Linked DNA regions of Homo sapiens. The protein of the gene in region 1 purifies or fractionates together with the protein of each later gene. This does not show direct contact. Each region holds a gene or a part of one and is shown in the gene's direction. Other genes may lie near its edges. The genes, in order: ACVR1, UBE3C, DNAJC16, CD9, SRSF4, RIBC1 and SLC26A2.

Region 1 (3,500 bases):
ATAAGCATTGAAAGAGCATGGCCCTAAAGTTTTTTGCAGGCATTTTTAGTTGTGGTGTAGAGGACTTTTATGGCTTATTCCATGGCTCTTAGAGCCAGGGCGATTTGGGTTTAAATTCTGGCTTTCTCAATTACCCTGTATTTTTGTGCAAGTCTATTTATCTATTTACCTGGCCCAAGTGCTGACACTGCTTTCACTCAGTGAGACAGGGACAGTGAGGGCGAAGGCGGATGGGGTTGGGAGTTAGCCAAGAGGAACTCCAGGGCTTGACGCTGTGCCCTGTACTTCTGCGTTGTTAGAAACTTGCATAACAGTGTGATCGTGGCCGGGCGCGGTGGCTCACGCTTGTAATCCCAGCACTTTGGGAGGCCGAGGCGGAAGGATCACTTGAGGTCAGGAGTTCAAGATGAGCCTGGCGAACGTGATGAAACCCCATCTCTACTAAAAATACAAAAAAAAAAAAAAAAGAAAAATAATAATAATAGCCGGGCGTGGTAGCGTGCGTCTGGAATCTCAGCTACTGGGGAGGCTGAGGCAGCAGAATTGCTTGAACCCAGGAGGCGGAGGTTGCAGTGAGCCGAGGTCGCGCTATTGCACTCCAGCCTGGGCGACAGAGCGAGACTTCGTCTAAAAAAAAATATATATATAGTGTGATCATATATTACTCATGTAACTAAAAAATAAGCCCACCTCACCGGATTCTGGTAAGGCCCAGAAGTATTATAAATGTCTGGTAAACAATAAGGATTCAAGTTGTAGCTTCTGTTATAATCCAGTGGTCTGGGGAGGGTGGACAAATTGAGGTGGCTCTTGGTTTTGGTTTATGGGACTTGGTAGGGAAGGAGTTGAGGGGAACTTTGCAGTAAGTCCAGCTAATTAATTCTTCAACTACATTTCTTTTGGCTTGTAACCTTCCAATTAGATATATGGGTTTGTATAAAAATCTGTTAAGGCGTTATTATTCAGGATATGGTAAAACAATGCAGTGCAGGAAACAACTCTTATAAGACCATAATTTGTATATAACTTACCAGTATATACCTAGCAATTAAGGATCATGTATTAGAAATAGTGTTCTATGATTAATCCTGCAAAAAGATCAGTATTATATTGATTAATTGATTGAGAGAGGATCTTATTCTGTTGCCCAGGCTGATCATAGGTCACTGCAGCCTCGATCTACTGGGCTTAAGCAATCTTCCTGCCTCAGCGTTCCAAAACAGCTGGGACTACAGGTGTGTACCACCACACCTGGCTAACTTTTTTTTGTTCTTAGTAGAAATGAGGTCTCACTATGTTGCTCAGGCTGATCTTGAACACCTGAGCTCAAGTGACAATCCCATCTCGGCCTCCCAAAATGTTGAGATTACAGATGTGAGCCACTGTGCCTCGTCTGTTTTTCTTTTTATTATTAAAAAATTCAAATGTTATAATGATCACTTAAATCCCGAACACCTAGATTCAATAATTGTTAAAACTTTGTGATGTTTGCTTTATCAATCTGTGACCATGTGTATATTTTTGCCAATCCATTTGAAAATAAAGTGTTACAGGCATCACAACACTTTACCCCTCAATACTTCAAAATTCATCCCTTGAAAATACTTAAAAATGCATCTTCTTCATAATCAGTTTTTCATATCTACAGATTATTGATAATTCTCTAGTATCATTTTATATTCATTTTCAGATGTTTTCAGTTTTTTCAAAGAGGAACTCAGCCAAAGTTTACAAATTGCATCCGGTTGTTTTGTCATCTTTAGTGTAAAAATTACTTATTACTAAGAACAAATCACCTGTAAAATTTAGCATCTTAAAACAACACAGATTTGTTATCTCACACAGTCTCTTGAGAGTCAGGAATCTTGGAATGACTTAGCGGTGTGGTTCTGGCTCAGGGTCTCGTGGAGGTTGCAATCATCTGAACGCTCAACCAGAGCTGGAGTTTCCAACTCTGTGAGGACACACTTAAAGCCATGATTGGCGGCAGGTCTCAGCTCCTTGCAGGGGGACCTCTCCACAGGGTTGCTTGAGTGTCTTTATAACATGGTGCATGGTGAGCTGAGAGGGACAAACAGGAAGCCTTTTATAATTTTATAACATCTGTTATATCCTAACTGTGAAGATACCCACTGTCACTTATGCCATAGTCTATTCAATAGTCCAGCATACACTCAAGGGATGGGGAATTATGCCTCACCTGGAGATCCTAGCAGTGGTGGCTTTAAAATATGTCCACAAGTTCTTTGAAGCTTCTCCCATCTTCAGAATATCTCCATGTTCTATTTAACCTGCACCTTTTAAATATTCTGATATTTTGACTGTTTGGTTCTGCAAATGGTGGAGGGGCATACAGTAGTCCCCTCTTTTCCCTGAGAAATACCTTCCAATACTCCCAGTGGATTCCTGAAACTCAGGATAGTACCAGATTCTATATATACTATGTTTTTTCCTATTACATACCTATTATAGTTTAATTTATAGATTAGCTACAGTAAAAGATGAACATTAGTAACACTAAAATGGAACAATGATAGCAGTATGCTATAATAAAATTTATGTGAATATGGTATCTCTCTCAAAATACTTAATTGTACTGTACTTACCTATTTTTGGACTGTAGTTGACTGCGGGTAACTGAAGGATAAGTGGGGGGACTATTGCATAGGATTTGGGAAATGTTCACAGTGTCCATAGAATCTTGGGGTTGATTATAAAAATAGGTGAAAGAGGAACCTGTCTGTTTTAGTGTAATGCAGTTGCCAGTATCTTTGCTAATTATTAAGGATGAGATAAGGTGTGCTAGCTCCCTGATGTTATATGAAATTGTCATCCCCCACATTCAAAGCCGTGGAGTGGAAGGTGAAGCATTCTCTGTAGATGGCTTGAGAGATCAACAAGGGATATTTGCATTGCAGTGGTTTACAGGGACTGCTTGCTCCAATTTGGCACTTTTCATTACAACAAATGTTATAGGAATCATTTTCAGTCAGTCTGCATATGCATCAGTAACATAAAATCATCCACAAATAAAGCATGCATGTATGTGTCTCCCCACTGGCCAGTGAAGAAAGCCTGTCTCCCTAATTGACTGAGGAATTCTGGAATGAGTCATGGTTTAAGAAAGCATTTGAAAGCCATTTAACCTGAGAGTTGTGCTTTCAATTGAGGTCCAGTTAAATGCTGTCTGTTTCCATGATTCTAGAGAAAAGGCCTGTGGGTTTGGTCAGCATTACTGCTCAGATAAGCAGCTCTTCCTTTAGGAATAAAGCAGTGCTTATAGCAATCTGCCCTTTATGTAGTGATAAATTACTTTAAATGCTCTATCTCACACTGTTGGAAATTTGTGTTTGGAGACTAGTGAGAGCAGTGGTGGAGCTTGAGAGCTTAATTTGCTTCTTGTTAAGCCACTTAGAGGCTCACATTTAACATGTGAGCCTGTTTTCCTGTGGACCTCAAACACAGGCCACATTGGTTTAGTGCATTGGTCTACAATTTAC
Region 2 (3,500 bases), on another chromosome or scaffold:
GTTCGTGCATGGCCACTTGTGCTGCGTGAGCGTCGTAGGTTTAGGGGAACAGAAGTAGAGGGATTTACATGAGCTTTTAAAATCCCAAATAGACTGGCCAGGTGCGGTGGCTCACACCTGTAATCCCAGCACTTTGGGAGGCCAAGGCGGGTGGATCCCCTGAGGCCAGGAGTTCAAGACGAACCTGACCAACATGATGAAACCCCGCCTCTACTAAATACAAAAAAAAAATCAGCCGGGCATGGTGGTGCATGCCTGTAGTCCCAGCTACTTGGGAGGCTGAGGCAGGAGAATGGCTTGAACCCGGAAGGTGGAGGTTGCAGTGAACCAAGATTGCACCATTGCACTCCAGCCTGGGCAACAAGAGCAAAACTCTGTCTGAAAAAAAAAAAAAAAAAAAAAAAAAAAAAAAAATCCCAAATAGACTAAAAGGGAAAATCCTACCCCAGTCAAGACCCCGCACAATCATAATTGAGTTATACCGTGGAAAACACTTTGAGCATCCATGAGACGGTCTTACTGTTTTTTTTATTTTTCTCAATGTTCTAACATATGTGAAATTTAATTGATTTTTCCATGATAAGTGTTTTTGAAGTTGTTATATGTTAGACATCCAGTTTGGAAAAATCATCTTAATATTTAGGCTTTCCGGTTAGCTTAGTATGCCTGGATTTGCCAGGGCTGCAGAATTAATGTAGACTTAAAGGAAGAGAATGTCTTTCAGTTGAAGTACTATAAATAGCAAAGGCAGGCAGGCATAATTTTAAAGTTATGAAACTCCTTAGTGCCAGATTATTGGAGAAGAATAACATCTGCTAAAGCTAATTAAAGTTTAATATGTTTAATAAATGTGATTGTTACAGACAAAAAATCATTAAAGTGCTGTAGAAAATTGTTAAGTTACCATCAGGCCACATAATAAATTAATGATTTTTCTCACTCTGAATTAATGCAAATTCCCGTTGTACTGTATTTAATTATGCACAAAATGGTGCCCTTGACTCAGATTTCAGTGAAGAACTTCATTTTTTTACTTTTAAGTCTCCAAGTAGGAAATTCAATTAGCGTTATGAAAGAAACACTAAAATGTGGCATTTAATTGCAAAATATATTTTAAGCTTTTCATTTATCCAGTGACTTTGCCAGCAGTCACTGACCCCTTCATTCAGAGATCCTTTTCTGTTTCAAAAATGCAATGCTTCCTTTTTAGTATATTCAAGCATTTGTGAAAATTATTGCCCTCATGTACTCAGAATGCTGAATAATAAGTGTAATAAATGTTATTTCTGGTTCTCCTTTGGTTCTCATTCTAACATTTTTATGAGAGATTTAAAGGAGCAAATAAACTATAATTAGAAAAAAAAAGACAATGGATTTTAGCACATATTATATGCCACATATATATTTTTTAATGAAGTTTACATTTAACAGTAAAGAGACCTACAAAGATCAGTAATAAGAATCATGTAAGTCTCTTCATAGGCTTTTTTTTTTTTTTTTTTTTTTTTTTTGAGATAGAGTTTCGCTCCTGTTGCCCAGGCTGGAGTACAATGGCCCATCTCAGCTCGCTGCAACCTCTGCCTCCTGGGTTCAAGTGATTCTCCTGCCGCAGCCTCCCGAGTAGGTGGGATTACAGGCACCTACCACCACCCCCAGCTAATTTTTTTGCATTTTTAGTAGAGGCAGGATTTCACCATGTTGGCCAGGCTGGTCTCGAACTCCTGACCTCCGGTGATCCACCCACCTCAGCCTCCCAAAGTGCTGGGATTACAGGCATGAGCCACCGCGCCCATCCTCTTCATAGCATTTTGTGGGCTGTGCTCTTACTAGTTTTACCCTTAACATAAATTATATGCTAAACTCAACATATAATTGAAACAAAATCCAACTGAAATGTGGGTGTGGCCAGTTGGGTGCCTGTTGTGCTTTGTGACAGCTTCAGTGCTTCCAAAGGTTCCTGCAGAATGGGACATTGCTCTAGTTTGATTCACATTTGACTACAATGGTTAGAAGGTAATTACCTTTTCTATTTTTTAAATTTTTTTGAACATAAACTCAAGATTGTATTGTCTTCATAATAAAACAAAAGATGACACTTAGAATTGGATGTCTTGGCCCTTCCTCCTCTTCTGTCCTCCCAGTTCAGAATGCTCACATCTCTTTATATCCAGCATCCTCTTACATCTGCACCTATGCTCAACGCACTCAAGCCTCAGCACAAGCTTCTTCGTAGTTCTAGCCTTTTCCCGGAAAATCAGCTTAGTCTGCCCACCGTAGCCGCTATGCTTCGTGTCCTAACACCACCTTCCCCGGGCACCTGTCCTAACGCCACCTTCCCAGGCACCTGTCGTAACGCCACCTTCCCCGGGCGCCTGTCCTAACGCCACCTTCCCGGGCATACAGAGAATCCGTGCCCTTTTGTGCCGTGTCGCTTTGTGGGCTTGCCACACTTACAGAAAGTCGAACGGGGGCCGGGTGTGGTGGCTCACGCACTTTGGGAGGCTGAGGCGGGCGGATCACCTGAGTTCAGGAGTTCTCGACCAGCCTGGCCAACATGGCGAAACCCCATCTCTACTAAAAATACAAAAATTAGCTAGGTGTGATGATGGGCACATATAGTCCCAGCTACTCGGGAGGTTGAGGCAAGAGAATTGCTTGAACCTGGGAGGCAGAGGTTGCAGTGAGCCGAGATTGTGCCATTGTACACCAGCCTTGTTGAGAGAGCAAGACGCCAACTCAAAAAAAAAAAAAAAAGTCTAGCAAGTATTAGGAACATTCACTTTGTGGGAGCGCTGTTGGCACCGAAAGCACTTTTTTTATATTGGATTTTTTTTTTTTTTTTTTACCTTTCAGTAAAAGTAATGTTTTCATTATAGAAAATTGGAAATTGTGATCAAGTATAAGAAACCTATATTTCCTCCCATTCTAACCATTATTTTTTTATGTTTCCTTCCTTTAATTAGTATGTGTTTTATCTACCTACATGAGTGTGTGTTAATGTAGATATGCATAATTTTTTCTGTTTTTGGTAGAGGTAGGGTCTTGCTCTGTTGCCCAGGCTGTCAGAAACTCCTGGCCTTGAGTGATCTCCCACACCAGCCTCCCAAAGCACTGGTACTACAGGTGTGAGCCAACATGCTCGGCCTGTTACACACACACACACCTGGTATTACAGGTGTGAGCCAACATGCTCAGCCTGTTACGTGCACACACACACACCTGGTATTACAGGTGTGAGCCAACATGTTCGGCCTGTTAAGCACAGAGACACACACCTGGTATTACAGGGGTGCGCCAACATGCTCGGCCTGTTACACACACACACACACACACCTGGTACTACAGGTGTAAGCCAACATGCTTGGCCTGTTACACACACACACACACACACACCTGGTATTACAGGTGTGAGCCAACATGCTCGGCCTGTTACACACACACACCTGGTACTACAGGTGTGAGTCAACATGCTCGGCCTGTTACACACACACACACACACC
Region 3 (3,500 bases), on another chromosome or scaffold:
CGGGCGTGGTGGCTCACGCCTGTATTCCCAACACTTTTGGAGGCCGAGACAGGTGGATCATTTGAGGTCAGGAGTTTGAGACCAGCCCAGCCAACATGGTGAAACCCCATCTCTACTAAAAATACAAAAATTAGCCGGGTGATAGTGGCGCAGGCCTGTAATCCCAGCTACTCGGGAGGCTGAGGCAAGAGAATCGCTTGAGCCTGGGAGGCAGAGGTTGCAGTGCGCCAAGATTGTACCACTGCATTCCAGTCTGGGCAACAGAGTGAGACCCTGTCTCAAAAAAAACAAAAAAACAAAAAAAACAGTGGCCTTGAAATCTTTATCCAGGTAAAAAGCAATCGTAATAATAACGAAAAATGTTCTAATTTGAAAGTCAGGCACAAGTGCAGTTTGAAACCTGATTGTTACTAAATGAATTTAGTCTATCCTAAAAGCTATTTCTCATGTCTACCTGTGTTATCAGAAGAAACAACAGCATTCTAGCATCCTGATATCATTCTAGCATTGGGATGAAACGTTGCCATCCTAGGAGAAGACATGGGTTCTTATGGATAAACGACTTAGCCTTCAGCCAGCTTTAGCAGTGTTTGGGAGCAGTGTACAGACATGCACCATTTCCCACCTTCCTCTGTGAAATGCTGCAGTATTATATGGTGCTTTGAAAACATGCCCTGCTGGAGTGCTTTGGGAAAAAATAGCCTGTTTCAAAGTTTCATTTATTATAGTCATGTAAAACAACTGATTGCCTCTATCATTTATTTTAAGAAACTTTCCTAACAAAATAGCCCTCCGTCTGCCTCTGTAGTGAACTCTGTGGACAAGGACATTAAATGACTGTGCATTAAAAGTTACATCCTTTCTCACCGCCTGCCTGTTTGTGTTTCAGGCATCCTGACAAAAACAAAGATCCTGGAGCAGAAGACAAGTTCATTCAAATCAGTAAGGCTTACGAGGTATCGTGTCCAGCTTTGTGATGCATCCATTAGCTCTTACAAAATATGCCTTAGGAGGTGATGAGTTTTGTAAAGTTGTCAGAAAGGTCATGTTCCCCATGCCCTTGATGCAGTTTCTAGATTATAATAGAGAGAACAGGCTGGATGCGGTGGCTCATGCCTGTAATCCCAGCACTTTGGGAGGCCGAGGTGGGTGGATCACGAGGTCAGGAGTTCGAGACCAGCCTGACCAACATGCTGAAACCCTGTCTTTACTAAAAATACAAAAAAAATTCGCCGGGCGTGGTGGCACGTGCCTGTAATCCCAGCTACTCAGGAGGCTTAGGCAGGAGAATTGCTTGAACCCGGGAGTGGGAGGTTGCAGTGAGCAGAGATCGAGGCCTGGGTAACAGAGGGAGACCGTCTCAAAAAATAAAATAAAATAAAAAATAATAGAACATATTTGGCCACATCCAGTATATTGGAACAAGTGCCTGAACACTTCAGCTCTTGGAAAAACTGGCCTATTTTAAAGGCTTTAACTAGAATTGTAGAATTACCCTGAGTATGTCTGTATGTGTCACTATTGCCTTCTTAGAAATATGCATTAAAGAATCACATACCAAATCGCCTATATTTATTAAAGTGGCACGAGGTAACAAATACATTTAAACACAAGATTTTCAGTAATTTTCCAGTATGTCAGCTCAAGTAGATTGGTCTGGAATATGCATCAAAGAGAATTCAGTGGCTTTCTGATTTGTATAGGGAATGCCCTTCAGCAGACAGTGCTTAGCTCATAGAATAACACGTCATCATTCTAAAACAGATTCCTGAATTTTAGACTTCAAAGTTATTTTGTAAAACAAAGTAAATTAACAGACAAGGCACTAGACTATAGCTATTTGGTGTTCATAGCTTTTCTTATCTTGGTTTGAATTGGTCCAACTCACCAGGTATGACCAGGTCAATTTTCTTGTCATTGAGCCCTGGTGATCAACATTATGTTATTTTATTTGTTTTGCTGAAGTGTTTAATGTTGTGGTAGTTTGAAATCTTTAATGCCAAGATGAGCATGAGTACCTAAACTGAAATATTTTAGTCTTGAATGTTCTTTAATGTTTCTCTAGTGAAAGAAGAGTTTCTCATTCTTTTGAATGACTGCATTTAGAATATCTAATCGGCTGGACCCAGTGGCTGCTCACGCCCTGTAATCCCAGCACTTGGGGAGGCTGAGGCATGCAGATCGCTTAAGCTGAGGAATTCAGGACCAGCCTAGACAACATGGTGAAAAATACAAAAATTAGCCAGGCATGGTGGCATGTGCTGATGGTCCTAGCTACTCAGGAGGCTGAGATGGAAGGTTGACCCTGAGAGATGGAGGCTGCAGTGAGCTGTGATCACGCCACTTCACTCCAGCCTGGGTGACAGAGTGAGACTCTATCTCGAAAAGAAAAAGAATATCTAATTATGTCATAATCTTTTTTCTTTTTTCTTAAGAGACAGTCTGTCTCTGTCACCCAGGCTGGAGTACAGTGATGCGATCACAGCTCACTGCAGCCTTCAACTACTGGGCTCAAGCAATCTCCCACTCACCTCACCCTCCCAAGTAGCTAGGACTATAGGCACGCACCACCATGCCTGGCCGATTTTTTTTTTTCTTTTTGTAGCAAAGTCATGCTATGTGGTCCAGGCTGGTCTTGAACTCCTGGCTTCAAGGGATCCTCCAAACCTTGGCCTCACATAATCGTGTCATAATTTTTACATTTCTTTTCTTTTCTTTTCTTTTCTTTTTTTTTTTTTTTTTTGAGACGGAGTTTCGCTCTTGTTGCCTAGGCTGGAGTGCAGTGGCACCATCTCGGCTCACCTCAACCTCCGCCTCCTGGGTTCAAGCAATTCTCCTACCTCAGCCTCCCGAGTAGCTGGGATTACAGGCATGCGCCACCACTCCCGGCTGATTTGATTTTTTGTATTTTTAGTAGAGACGGGGTTTCTCCATGTTGGTCAGGCTGATCTCAAACTCCCGACCTCAAGTGATCCACCCGCCTCAGCCTCCCAAAGTGCTGGGATTACAGGTGTGAGCCACCACGACTGGCTGCATTTATTTTCTTCCTATGTCTTTCAAGCTGCTTACAAAAAAGTCTTTTGGATGAACCTTTTGTTGTTGTTTAGATTTTTTTCTTCCTTTATAGATTCTTTCAAATGAAGAAAAGAGATCAAATTATGATCAATATGGAGACGCTGGAGAGAACCAGGGCTACCAGAAGCAGCAACAGCAGCGAGAGTATCGCTTCCGCCATTTCCATGAAAATTTTTATTTTGATGAATCCTTTTTTCACTTCCCTTTTAATTCTGAACGGCGGGACTCAATTGACGAAAAGTATTTATTGCACTTTTCACATTATGTGAATGAAGTGGTTCCAGATAGCTTCAAGAAACCCTACCTCATCAAGATCACCTCCGATTGGTGCTTTAGCTGCATTCATATCGAGCCTGTGTGGAAAGAAGTCATTCAAGAACTGGAAGAATTGGGTAAGATAATTTTATTCACTGAAAGATATTTAT
Region 4 (3,500 bases), on another chromosome or scaffold:
AAGCTGCAGGGTGGCAGGAGAATGGTGAGTGCCATTAGAGGAGCTGGGGCTCACCTCTGGGAACCTCACAGGATTCAGATCCTGCAGGTCATTGCAGGGCCCTGCTGGTGGCCGGTGGTCCTACCTGAAGTGACCAGGAGGGTGATTTGAAGGCACAACCCCAAAGAGACACAGATCCCCTAGTTGGGGTCTAAGGGCCACTGTCCACTTAGCTCTGCCAGGGAAATACAGATCCTTTGCAGCGACACCCCATTCGGGGAAGAGAGCGGAGCTTTGAAGACTTCGTTCTGCCTGCAGAAGCGCCGGCAAGGGGGATGATGCACGGTAAAGTTAGAACAGCAGCACTGTGTCTGGGCACAGTGATCAGCCCTGATCTCAGGTGATCCGTCCGCCTCAGCCTCTAGCACTTTGGGAGGCCGAGGCAGGCAGATCACCCGAGGTCAGGAGTTCGACACCAGCCTGGCCAACATGGCAAAACCCCACTTCTACTAAAAATACAAAAATTAGCTGGGCGTAGTGGCGTGCACCTATAATCCCAGCTACTCGGGAGGCTGAGGCACAAGAATCTCTTGAACCTGGGAGGCAGAGGTTGCAGAGAGCTGAGATCACACCACTGAGGCTCTGTCTCCAGCCTGGGAGACAGAGCGGGACTCCATCTCAAAAAAAAAAAAAAAAAAAAAAACAGCAGCACAGCACTCTGAGCACTGCTTAGGTCTGAGCTATGCCCTGAACGTCACTGAACGCTTTAGGAAATAATAATTGTCGTCCATGGGCAAAGGGCCAAGGAGGCGTCGCTCTGTGTCCCCTTCCCCACGAGGCTGTGAGACCAGCCTTCTGTACTGGCCCAGAGCCCTTCTCCTAGCAGATGAGCTTGGAGTGCCAGCCACACCCTGGCTACTTTTCCAAGGAATAGTCATGGGGTGACCGCCCCTTGCACTGGGCCACCAACTGTCTGCAGAGCAACCCACAGGCCAGCCTGACCATGCAGCTGACTTTTCAGGAAACCTGAACAGCCCAGGGGTGTCTTTTCTCCAGTGGGGCCACAGCTTACCAAGTAGAGAAAGAGTATATAACCAGGCAGAAAAGCAAGTGAAAACCTTTCCAACATTCAGAACAGTCTATGGTAAGTCCAGAGCAGCTGACAGCCTTATATGGGCCTTCTCTCCAATCCAGGCCTGGAGATTCAGCCCGTCAGCAAGATCCCTAATCCCAGGCTGCAAACTTGTTGGGGAACTTCATTTTCTTGGTCCTAGGCCAGCAGCCTTTCCCAGCTCCCTGGTGTCCCTCCAGAACCATGGCTGCTGAATGAGGGCATCTAGGGGGGCTCCAGCCAGAGGCCGTGAATGCCCCCCCTTCCTCGGCCAGCCCCCTATCCATGATGAGGTGCCTGGTGATTTTCAGGACACGCGACACTTGGCCTTAGTAAGCTGGCATCCCCATCCTGGCTTGTGACCTGGGGCAGTTCATTTTATTGCTCTGGGCTTCATTTTTCTCCCTCCTGAAACCAGCACAGCTTACACAACCACAGCACAGCTTACACACCCACTCCCCTCTGGGGCAAAGAAGTACAGCGTGTGGCAAATGGAATTCCATTGTGGCACTTATTCCCGTGAACTCGGGAGGGCGGGAACCAAGACGAAACCAGTCGGGGCAGAGGTAGGGCTCCTTTGAACACCTGGTGGAGTTATTTGGATATAATAAACTTTTATTGCAGGCCAGAGGCCCTACCGGATTTTGTTCTCCTTCACACAAACGGGCGTGGTGAGTGCTGTTTGCAGGACAGAGCTGGTGTAGGGACGGGAGCCTGCTGTGTCCTCTCCCTGGGCTAAACTGAGAGCCCTGGTGAACAGTGAAAAACACTGTTCCATTTCTTGTGTAAAGGACACGCTGGCATATGCTACTGCTGCTACACCAGCCTTTCTTTTTTTTTTTTTTTTCTGGGCCTGTAATGTCAGCCTGAAAAAAGCAGAATAAACAACCCTTAAGCAAATTAATACCGTAATCCTAGAGAAGGCTCTGTGATGGATAACTTTTTCCATGAGTCAGACAGCAAGCTAACATTCGCTTGTTTTATAAAGGGGAACACTTTGTCATTTATCAACAGCAGCCTTGGCTAACAAGCTTGGGGTGTAAGCGATGAGTAGCTTCTCCAAAGGGAAGCACTGAATAGCCCTTGTAAAAACCAGCCCGAGCCCTGCAGTGGTTCCGTGACTTCCATGGGGCCTGCTTCCAGATGAGCTGTCCTGTAGCTTGCCGGCTGCTGCTGAGTCCCCGAACACAGCTGCCAGGGGATCGCTTCCCTTTTCCCGTGACTAGAGAGGGCTAAAGCTAGGCACTGCAGATCCGTAGCCATCCACGCAAGATTTAAAGCCCACAAAACCCGTGATCCTAAAATCTTCCTCTGCTGAGCCCTAGCATGAATATTTAATATTAACCACAAGCCCCATTAGGAGCATGTTCTCTTTCTCTGCGTGGGAAATACTTTCTCTTTAGTAGCTCACTTGCAGCTAATCCAATTCCCTTGGCCTCTGCCAGGACCGCCAGGTTCAAGAACTGGGATCTGGACTTAGAGAAAACATGTCTGCCTGTTCGTTCCCACTCCACGGTATTTCATGTGTTTGTAAATCCTTTTGATCTCTTAATACCTCCTGTTTATTCAGCCCCTGCTATGGAGCTCAAAGGAGTGACCTCATCCTTCCTTGACTTGCCCCCATTAGATGGGGAGAAACTGGGGCCTTTCTACTGTCCCCATGTGAGAGAACCAAAGGAGGCTGCCCTCTTACCCAGTGCTCCATGCATGGGGCTGCACAGCCTCCCCAAGCCCAGCTTGTGGCCTCAACAGCGTTTGACTGCCCAGGAAGATGCGACCTGACTTGAGGACAAGCTACATTTGTCCCCTTGCCCAGTGTGGGCCAGGCATGCACAAGAACAATACCCATATTCTTGCAACATGGGGTTTGCCAGTAACCCCACGTGACTTGACCTCACGACGGATGTGGGGGAGAAGGGGGAGGAACAAACGCTCTCTGTGTGCATTCTGCTCTGTGCTGCCCGTGAGCCTCAGCTGCGGGCAGACTGCATGGTTTGTTGCCTGCAAAGTCTCACCCCTGCTCGGGGTGCAGATGTGGGACAGTGAAGTCAGCGTGTCACCTGCCGAGGGTTCTCATCGAGTGTCCTGCTGTGTATTGTGGGGAAACATCACAGACTTTCTCTCTCGCGTGCGTGTTTTCAGCCCCTACATCAAGGATATCTCTCTGGTCCCAGTGAAAGGACAGTAGGGATACAGCAGCAGGTTAAAATTCACCATGGTGATTATTAATGATTGTTACTCATGCTTGGTATAATTGAGATTAACAACAGCTAGCATTTGTTGTGCACATGTGGATTATATCACTTAATCCTCACAGCAATCCTGGAAGTGGGCATTATTGCTACTCCTGTTTTACAGATAGAAAACTGTTGCACAGAGAGGTTAAGTGGCTTCCCCAGAGTCACAGATC
Region 5 (3,500 bases), on another chromosome or scaffold:
ATCATTGAGGAATCATTACAGAGGAAAACGACTTCTGGGAAGAAGACCAATGGTAAAGATGTATTTCAAGCAAAAATTGCCTGTATGGCAAAAACGCTGGAGAGTCTGAAAGGAAGGAGTGAGTACAAAAGAAAAAGCATAACTTAGCTACGTATGTAAGCTTATAGTCCCCTAGCAGAAGGGCAGTGGATCTCCCTACTGGGAAGCATGTTTGAACATATCTAGATTGTGATTAGTAATTGAAACTCAGAGGCCGGGCGCGGTGGCCTGTAATCCCAGCACTTTGGGAGGCCGAGGCGGGCAGATGACGAGGTCAGGAGATCGAGACCATCCTGGTTAAGATGGTGAAACCCCGTCTCTACTAAAAATGAAAATAAAAATTAAAAAAAAGTAGCCGGGCATGGTGGCAGGCACCTGTAGTCCCAGCTACTCGAGAGGCTGAGGCAGGAGAATGGCGTGAACCTGGGAGGTGGAGCTTGCAGTGAGCCGAGATCGTGCCACTGCACTCCAGCCTGGGCGACAGCGAGACTCTGTCTCAAAAAAAAAAGTAATTGAAACTCAGAAACAGATTTTGGATGCTTTAGATAGGTCTTTGAAGAATTGCTGGAGTTCAGATTTGTAGAAGTGAGATGTATCAGTAGATATGTTAGGCTGAAGGGTTGTAAGTTAAGTTTAGAATTAAGGCATAAAATGCTTGTCTAGACCGGTCACGGTGGCTCACACCTGTAATCCCATCACCTTGGGAGGCCGAGGTAGGTGGATCACTTGAAGTCAGGGGTTTGAGACCAGCCTGGCCAACATGGTGAAACCCCATCTCTACTAAAAATACAAAGATTAGCTGGGTGTGGTGGTGGGCACCTGTAATCCCAGCTCCTCTAGAGGCTAAGGCAGGAGAATTGCTTGAACCTGGGAGGTGGAGGTTGCAGTGAGCAGAGATTGCATCACTGCACTCCAACCTAGGCAACAGAGCAAGACTCTGTCTCAAAAAAAAAAAAAAAAAAAAAAAATCTTGTGTAATAGGAAGATGACCAAATAAGGAAACAAATGAGTTCTTCAAAGGAGATTTAGTGTTCAGGAAAGGATTCTATGGACCCTGAGAGGGTTTGGAGAAGAGGTGTGTAAGCAAGAGTTCATTGCCTACCGTTTTATTACACCAGGCATCGCTAATGTAGATTGCCACTGTTCTAGAGAACTTTTTGAAAGATGGTTTGGGACCACAAATACAACGAAGATCTCCCAGGATCATATAGACCATTCCATTTCCCATTAAGGTCTCCTACTTTTCTACCCGCCCCATAAACTTCAAGAGTCACTGCAAGGGCCTGGCACGGTGGCTCACACCTGTAACCCCGGCACTTTGAGAGGCCAAGGCAGGCAGATCACCCAAGGTCATAAGTTCAAGACCAGCCTGACCAACATGGAGAAACCCCTGTCTCTACTAAAAATACAAAGTTAGCCGGGCGTCGTGGCACATGCCTGTAATCCTGGCTACTCGGGAGGCTGAGGCAAGAGAATCACTTGAACCTCAGAGGCATAGGTTGCGGTGAGCCGAGATCCTGCCATTGCACTCCAGCCTGGGCAACAAGAGCAAAACTTCGTCTCAAAAAAAAAAAAAAACAAAAAGAGTTACTGTAGGGAAGGGAGGGGCAGGAATCCTAGATGCACGTCAAGGAAGCAACAATATTAGCAGCACTTGTTTATACCCTTTCAGCTCTGTGGTAACTTTTGTTGGCTTTGATTGTATATAGATTTTATTTTTTATAATAAGCCATTTCATGTAAAGTGTGAAAGAATTTTGAGTACACTAGTTGCCCTTTTGTCATAAAATCTTGTGGTTTTAGTCAGATCTTTATATCTTAGCTTTTCCATATTTTAGTTAATGAGTAAAACTTACCACATATTAAGATTATTTTGCCTGTCTAGTAGCTAGAAGGATAAACCCCCAGATCATTGAAATTTATAGTTTTATTTTTTAGTTCAAGTCATGAATTAAAACTCTCAAGGGAAACTTGGATTTAAACTTCAGAACCTGCGTTTCATGGAACAGTGAAATCATGAATAGCCTGAATTTTCAGGGGATGTTGTGGTCTGTTTAGTCATGCTATCTAATTATTACCAGAAAATTTTTGTTTTCGCCCTTGTTTAATGCACCATAATTTTTTTAATGTGGAGTTCAAGACTCTTCGAGTGAGGCAGGTCGTTGTTGTGTATGTCACTGCTCACTGGAGGGCATTATTAAGCCTTAGATACTGAGAAGAATTACTGCCAACCCCAGCACCTACACAGGGATTTTTCTCTTTTGACTCCTGAATTCTTGACAGATTAGGAAGTATATAGTTAGTTTAATGTTCCAGGTTGCTGGTTTCTGGTTAGATGAGCTGTTACAGTATTTTTTTCTTTTTTTTTTTTTTAAAGTTTTTAGTTTTTAATTCTCCCAAGGCTTCTCCCAAGGCTCTGTCATTCATCGTTACCGTATTCTTAATCATGAGAGGGATTATCTTCACCCACCACCAAGTGGCAGAGAAGTGCTTTATCATTTTTATGATAATGCTATAACTAATGAGTGACAAAAGAAAAAGCAAACACTTTGCCTTTAGGAACCCTACCACCTATTTGTTGTTTTTTTGTTTTTTGTTTTTTGTTTTTTTTGAGATGGAGTCTTGCTCTGTCGCCCAGGCTGGAGTGCAGTGGTACAATCTCAGCTCACTGCAACTTCCGCCTTTTGGGTTCAAGCAATTCTCCTGCCTCAGCCTCCCAAGTAGCTGGGACTACAGGCGCGTGCCACCACGCCCGGCTAATTTTTTGTATTTTTAGTAGAGACAGGGTTTCACCGTGTTAGGCAGGATGGTCTTGATCTCCTGACCTCATGATCCACCTGCCTCGGCCTCCCAAAGTGCTGGGATTACAGGTGTGAGCCACCATGCCCGGCCACCTTTTTGTTTTTAAGCCCTTCTGCCAGCCTCAGAAATAGCATCCCATTTGCACTGGCATGTACAAAGCATTAGAGTCTATGTTAAGAAAAGGAAGACATTTGGTTCTGGATTAATTTTAGGATTATCTAAGAAGAGGTTAAAACAAGTTTTGTTTAAAAGCGTGTTTGAATAACTCTCTTTATGTATAGTTAAAATTAAAGACCCACTCTTAATTTTCAAAGTAGCACATATTTATAATTGGAAATTTTTTTTTTTTTTTTTTTTTTTTTTTTTGAGACAGCGTCTGGCTCTGTCGCCCAGGCTGGAGTGCAGTGGCGCAATCTCGGCTCACTGCAAGCTCCGCCTCCTGGGTTCACGCCATTCTCCTGCCTCAGCCTCTCAAGTAGCTGGGACTACAGGAGCCCGCCACCGCTCCCGGCTAATTTTTTGTATTTTTAGTAGAGACGGGGTTTCACTGTGTTACCCAGGATGGTCTCGATCTCCTGACCTCATGATCCACCCGCCTCGGCCTCCCAAAGTGCTGGGATTACAGGCGTGAGCCACCACGCCCGGCCGGAAATTTTTTTT
Region 6 (2,871 bases), on another chromosome or scaffold:
AAGAACCTTATAAATCTGGCAAAGGGGGTTGGGCCTTATAAGCACTGGGGAGCCATTGCTTTAAAGGTGCTTTCAAAGGCTTTACGCTGAGGAGTGCCATGGTCAGATTTGCTTCCCAAAGATCACTCTGGTAGCCAGTGCAGAGAAATCCAGTGCAGAGAGGGTAACGTTGGAGCAAGAGAACCCAGTGGGGCTCCTGAGATACTGCCTGACACCAGATTGTGAGGCCTGAATTAAGCTGGTGACAGCAGAGATGGAGGGCACAGATACGAAATATATCAGGAAGTAAAATCAGTAGGAATCAATAACTGCTGAAATATTATAGGGAGAAAGGAATGGGGGTGGCGTGTAGTCAAAGACGGTGGTCGGCACTGATGGGCCATTCCACCTCCCTTTTGCTCCAGATGTATAACATAAAACAGTCAACAGATACCAAGGAAGCAGCAGCCATCGAGGCTAGAAGAAATCGAGAAAAAGAGCGACAAAACCGATTCTTCAATGTGCGGAACCGAGTCATGGGGGTGAGTGGGTAGTAGGGACTGTTGCTCAGGATCAGGGCCACCTCACTCTTACACCTGGAGAGGAATGTGTAACAGTGCCCATGATAGCCCTTCCCCTGATTCAAGTAGGCCCCTAGGGCAGGAAAGGAAAGAGAGGGAGAGAAGGCACCCACCCCTACAGGCCTGGGAAGAGCTTGGGAAGAGGGATAGGTCAGTGCAGGGGAAGAGACTAGGGGAGACGGCTGACCCTTCTCCAGTCAGCTCTGGGCCATGTGACCTGGTTCTTGAGACAGGCAACATGGAGCTAAAAGAGGCCTAAAGAATATTTGGAGTCCGGGTGCAGTGGCTTACACCTGTAATCCCAGCACTTTAGGAGGCTGAGGTGAGCAGATCACACAAGGTCAGGAGTTAAAGACCAGCCTGGCCAACGTGGTGAAACCCTGTCTCTACTGAAAATACAAAAATTAGCTGGGCGTGGTTGTGCATGCCTATAATCCCAGCTACTTGGGAGGCTGAAGCACAAGAATCACTTGAATCCAGGAGGAGCAGGTTACAGTGAGCCGAGATCACACCATTGCACTCCAGCCTGAGCAACAGTGAGACCCTGTCTCAAAATTACTGCATATACCTAAACTATCTCTGCAAGGCTATGTTGAGAAACTTAACCAGGCTGAGAGACAGAGATGGAAGGGACACTTACGCCTCACTAAACTGTATTCCTTTTTGTATGATTTTGAAATGTGATAAATGAATTATAATAAAAGAGAAAATATTGATAGTTTAAGAAACAAAAGATTGCTAGGTGAGTGGATAGAGGGGGGATGCAGCATGGTATTCTGGAAAAGACCCCGTAAGTATTTAAGGCCAGGTCTGCTGACTGTTATGTGTGTGGCTTTGGATAAATCACCTGTCTTCTCTGAGCCCCAGGCTCCTCTTCTGTAAAATGAGGCTGAAGGAAGTCAGGTGAGTGTTAACACAGAGTGGCAGCTTTGAAAACCAGTGCATAGTGCCTGCCGTAAGAAGTTGGCTAGGGTATTAGTGTTCTGATTGAGATCCAGCTGACAAGCTGACAAGCATTTCCTCGGGGCCTGCTCTGTGCCAAGCACTGTGTTGGGCAGTGGGGATACGAAAATGACTAAGGCCCAGTTTCTGCCCTGAAAGGGTTCACAGTCTGGTGGAGGAGAGAATACAGAGAGGCGAACATCAATATAATGTAGACAGTGGGTTCTAGATTCTACAGGAGTAGAACCTGCCTGAGGGGTCAGGAAAGTGAAGGCTGAGCTGGTCTCGAAGGACAAATTGGAATTTGTGTAAAGAGGGGAGGAAAGTGTTCCAAGTGGAGGGAGCAGCTTGAGCAAAGGCTATTGGTTCAAAACAGCCTAAGATATTCAGGGAACTGTAAGCACAGCTCATAAGGGTAAGGTGGGACTAAGAGATGAGGCCAGAGAAGGAGGCAGAGGCTAGACCATGGAGAGGCTTACAAACCATGCTCAGGAGCTAGAACTTTATCCAGTAGGTACTGGGGAGCTACAGGATTCTGAAACAGGTAAATTCTAATTAGTTTGTGGTAGGACATTGAAGGCCCCCTGCTGGGCCCCTACTCTGATTGTGCTCCTTTCTTTGGGATCAGGTGGATGTCCAGGCCCTGAACAACCAGGTGGGAGACCGAAAGCGTCGGGAAGCAGCAGAAAGAAGCAAGGAGGCAGCTTATGGTAAAAGCCAAAAGCCAGGGGCCAGACAAGGGTGTAAAGAAAGAGCTCGAGTGGGCTGAGGTAGGGCAGTTCTGCCTCTGTGGCCTGAGGCCCTGGGGTGGTGGGACAAATTGGATGGACCTTGAGAGTAGAGGACATGCTAAGTGGACTCTGTCCCTCCTGGGGTATCTTCTCCATATCCTTGCTCACCACCCCCAGGTACCAGCCAGGTGCAGTATGATGTGGTAGTCCAGATGTTAGAGAAGGAAGAGGCAGATCGAACACGTCAGCTGGCCAAGAAAGTCCAGGAGTTTCGGGAGCAGAAGCAGCAGCTCAAGAACGGGCGTGAATTTAGTCTTTGGGATCCAGGCCAAGTCTGGAAGGGGCTTCCAACCTATCTTAGTTACAGTAATACCTATCCTGGTCCAGCCAGCCTGCAGTACTTCTCTGGGGAAGACCTAGACAGGGACACACGGCTGAGAATGCAGCAGGGGCAGTTCAGGTACAACTTGGAAAGGCAACAGCAGGAGCAACAGCAAGCCAAGGTTGATGAGAATTATACAGGTAAGCAGCCCGGCCCTCCAGACTCAGAGACCTGAGGCCTAGTGGGGATCTGTCCTAAGCTGAGTACAGCAGCCAGGGGACCAGAACTGTGTGGGGAGGTCCACTTATCCATAGGG
Region 7 (3,143 bases), on another chromosome or scaffold:
AATATCTTGCTTACTCTAAACTTTAGAGTCTAAATGAAGCTTTTTCTCAGTACAAGATTCTGAGTATCATAAAATGGTTATTTAATTGAAACGTAGTGTGGTATACTCTTGATGGTTAGAACTCTTACAGCCTTATTTATTTTTAAGTTTGTTACAGCCAAAGGGTTGGAGTGTGCCAGTGCACAGGTAGACTAAGGAAAACATTATAGAGGAGTGAAGAGAACAGACCATTGAAAAGACTATTATCTGACCAGCGGAGGCAGAAAAGAGAGGAACCCAGTTGAATAGGATCCAATCCCTGGTTAGCCTCTACACAATAATAGGGAGACAAGGATTAGGAGCCATACCTCCCAGAGCAAGGTATCTTTCTAGAGCAAATTTCTCTTTCTAGAAGGGGAGGGTCACAGGGTCACAGATTCACCAAAGCTGAAAGGGCTGAGGAGCTCATGGTAGCCTGGGCTGACCTACTCTGGAGCACGGTGTCTTCCTTCTAAACTGAGTGACTGTAGTACTATCTGTGCCTCTGATGGTAATAAAACTGACAAGATGTCTAATTTTTTTTTAAGTAGGACCAAAGGAAAACAAGATTTAGATAGTCTGACTTTGCTTTTGAACAACAGACATTGCAAGTCAAAATTGTTGTCAAATTTACATATGGTAAATGATGAACTTTAAAAATGTGTCCAGGTGTTAGATGAGTTCATTAGACTCTTTTAATGCTAATGGCTAGTACGTTTAAACAAAACAGCAGTTCTCTGCTGCAATATTCCCATTGACCACTTAAATGACCATAAGTGGTCATTTAAGAACATGTTAGGGTTAGCCCTGATCTGAATATAAAAGTGAGAAAAGGGCTACAGTGCATTTCTTGGTAACTTAAACTGAGTCTTGAAGTTATAATGATCCATTCGAGTTCTGTGATCCTTATTGTTCTTAATTGTGTTTCTCTACGTATTGTTACAGATGAGCCATACGTTTCTTTGTATCAATGTAGACATGACTTCAGATACCTCTGAGGACCTACCCAGCAGTCTAGGACCCTGGGCCAAGTGCTGGGACTATGGTACTAAATCCAGTAGATGGGCTGTGTAGCAACTCTCCCAGGGAACACACTAGGGTACTTAGGGAGGTGCTTTGTGGAGCATGTTGAAGCTTTGAGATCTGAGCAGGAGGCAGTGATGTCCCTGGTCTATTCAGGGAAAGATTTCAGTGTGAAATGGTAAACATCCAATTGACAGGATTTAGATTTTGCTTAGTTTTTCTGCTTTTTAATGTTTCTATCCCCCATCTCAGTGTTTTCTTTATCCATCCCAGTGATGCCTTATTTGAAACTGGGCTTAAACTGCAAAAAGAATGAAGTTGGATTTAGGAAGCTGTTAGATCATTGAGTGGTGTTGAGAGTGAAGTTTCACTAGCAGGGAAGTTTCCTTGAGCCTAAAATAAAAAGAAAAAATTAAAAAGAATCAGTTTTTTTAATTAAAAAAATAGAAAGCTGTTAGGCTCCTAATTCGTGGGGTTTTTTTTTGTAAAAACAGTTTAGATAATCCTGAATGCAATCATTAACTTGGTTGCTAATTACAAGAATGAAAATTATAATGGAAAAGGACAAAATAATATACCAGCTGGTTTGTTATTATAGTCCGTGTATTAAAATACTATTGAAATACGTTAAAGGTAAATTTTTAAGGTTTAAAAAAAATTTAGTAACTTACAGGGATGGAGAATTTAGATGTCAGAGGTGGGGAGATTTATTTTTATAAGGTAATTTTTATCCTGATAAGGACTTAAAAAAAAGTTTTGCAACTGAAATTTTAAAGTAAACATGTTAAGTACAGTTAAAAAGTAAGCATTGTAGTAAATAGTGGATTCTCTGGTGTGTATTTTTTATCTCAGTGTTGAAAATTGGAAAAGAATGGACTGAAGTCTAAAAACTGGAATAATGAAGGACACTAAATGCCTTTATTGTAGATACTATGTTTGTAAGTCTATAGCTAAGCAACTTAAGCCAAAAAGGTCTTTCAACTGAAGCTTTAATCAACTTATTTTGGAGATGTTCTCTTCCCTTATCTCATGCGTCATCCCTAAAATAATAAGATACATGGGATCAAATAGCCCTTGCCTTTTCAACACAAATCAGTTGGAAAATTATGGTTTGAGTCCTGTTGCTGCCATGGCTTCTGTTTCTCAGAAATGAGTGTGTATGAACATACCAATCTATGTAATAGGCTACCTTTTTTTGTCTTCTTTGGAACTTTGTACACAAACCAAGACAATATCAGGGTGACAGGTGAATGAACTTAAATTCTCAGTCTTGTCTATTCACCAAAAAAGTATACTGCCTGTTTTTTCTTTAATTATTCAAGGTTGATGACTTTTAGGAACATGTTTTATACTGTATTTTTTAATTAAAGCAAGTGCCTTGATGTAATTCCATGTAAATCATTGCTTAACCCTCTTATGGGATGAGGATGAGTTATTAATGTATTGCAGCCTACTGGAAAGGAGGGGGAGTTGGTTAATAGCAGATACTTTTCTTCTAGAAGCTTATGTTTTATGCTGTTTATTATGTAAGATCCTGTATGTGTGTTGAGATTTAGAGGTTTCATTTGTTTTGTCTGCTAATAAATTGTTACTCTAATAATACATTACTCTGTATTTAAATTATTTAAGTGCAAGGAGGGTTCTGACTAAAACACATTTAGGCCCCAGTGAGTTTTAAAATACCATCTGTTGGCCAGGCTCAGTGGCCCACACCTATAATCCCAGCATTTTGGGAGGCTCAGGCGGGTGGATCACCTGAAGTCAGGAGTTCAAGACCAGCCTGGCCAACGTGGTGAAACCCCGTCTCTACTAAAAATGCAAAAATTAGCTGGGTTTGGTGGTGCACACCTGTAGTCCCAGCTACTCAGGAGGCTGGGGCATGAGAATTGCTTGAACATGGGAGGCAGAGGTTGCAGTGAGCCGAGATCACACCACTGCACTCCAGGCTGGGTGACAGAGCGAGACTCTGTCTCAAAAAAATACATAAATAAAATAAAATATCATGTGTTAGGCTGGGCACGGTGGCTCACGCCTGTAATCCCAGCACTTTGGGAGGCTGAGGCAGGTGGATCACGAGGTCAGGAGTTCAAGACCAGCCTGGC

What was found.
Region 2: the proteins of ACVR1 (region 1) and UBE3C purify together in Homo sapiens (co-immunoprecipitation; one large-scale study listed by IntAct). This does not show direct contact.
Region 3: the proteins of ACVR1 (region 1) and DNAJC16 purify together in Homo sapiens (co-immunoprecipitation; one large-scale study listed by IntAct). This does not show direct contact.
Region 4: the proteins of ACVR1 (region 1) and CD9 purify together in Homo sapiens (co-immunoprecipitation; one large-scale study listed by IntAct). This does not show direct contact.
Region 5: the proteins of ACVR1 (region 1) and SRSF4 purify together in Homo sapiens (co-immunoprecipitation; one large-scale study listed by IntAct). This does not show direct contact.
Region 6: the proteins of ACVR1 (region 1) and RIBC1 purify together in Homo sapiens (co-immunoprecipitation; one large-scale study listed by IntAct). This does not show direct contact.
Region 7: the proteins of ACVR1 (region 1) and SLC26A2 purify together in Homo sapiens (co-immunoprecipitation; one large-scale study listed by IntAct). This does not show direct contact.

What each region holds. Positions count from the first base shown.
Region 1 is NC_000002.12:157,761,331-157,764,830, reverse strand, and holds part of ACVR1 (activin receptor type-1 precursor), read left to right. Parts: intron 1-3,500. UniProt on the Homo sapiens protein: Bone morphogenetic protein (BMP) type I receptor that is involved in a wide variety of biological processes, including bone, heart, cartilage, nervous, and reproductive system development and regulation.
Region 2 is NC_000007.14:157,260,926-157,264,425, forward strand, and holds part of UBE3C (ubiquitin-protein ligase E3C), read left to right. Parts: intron 1-3,500. UniProt on the Homo sapiens protein: E3 ubiquitin-protein ligase that specifically catalyzes 'Lys-29'- and 'Lys-48'-linked polyubiquitin chains.
Region 3 is NC_000001.11:15,533,348-15,536,847, forward strand, and holds part of DNAJC16 (dnaJ homolog subfamily C member 16 isoform 1 precursor), read left to right. Parts: intron 1-889; coding exon 890-956; intron 957-3,127; coding exon 3,128-3,467; intron 3,468-3,500. UniProt on the Homo sapiens protein: Plays an important role in regulating the size of autophagosomes during the formation process.
Region 4 is NC_000012.12:6,227,900-6,231,399, forward strand, and holds part of CD9 (CD9 antigen), read left to right. Parts: intron 1-3,500. UniProt on the Homo sapiens protein: Integral membrane protein associated with integrins, which regulates different processes, such as sperm-egg fusion, platelet activation and aggregation, and cell adhesion.
Region 5 is NC_000001.11:29,175,401-29,178,900, reverse strand, and holds part of SRSF4 (serine/arginine-rich splicing factor 4), read left to right. Parts: intron 1-3,182; exon of another isoform or gene 3,183-3,500. UniProt on the Homo sapiens protein: Plays a role in alternative splice site selection during pre-mRNA splicing. Represses the splicing of MAPT/Tau exon 10.
Region 6 is NC_000023.11:53,425,873-53,428,743, forward strand, and holds part of RIBC1 (RIB43A-like with coiled-coils protein 1), read left to right. Parts: intron 1-404; coding exon 405-521; intron 522-2,130; coding exon 2,131-2,212; intron 2,213-2,410; coding exon 2,411-2,755; coding exon of another isoform or gene 2,756-2,790; exon of another isoform or gene 2,791-2,871.
Region 7 is NC_000005.10:149,984,758-149,987,900, forward strand, and holds the end of SLC26A2 (sulfate transporter), read left to right. Parts: 3' UTR 1-2,643; downstream 2,644-3,143. UniProt on the Homo sapiens protein: Sulfate transporter which mediates sulfate uptake into chondrocytes in order to maintain adequate sulfation of proteoglycans which is needed for cartilage development.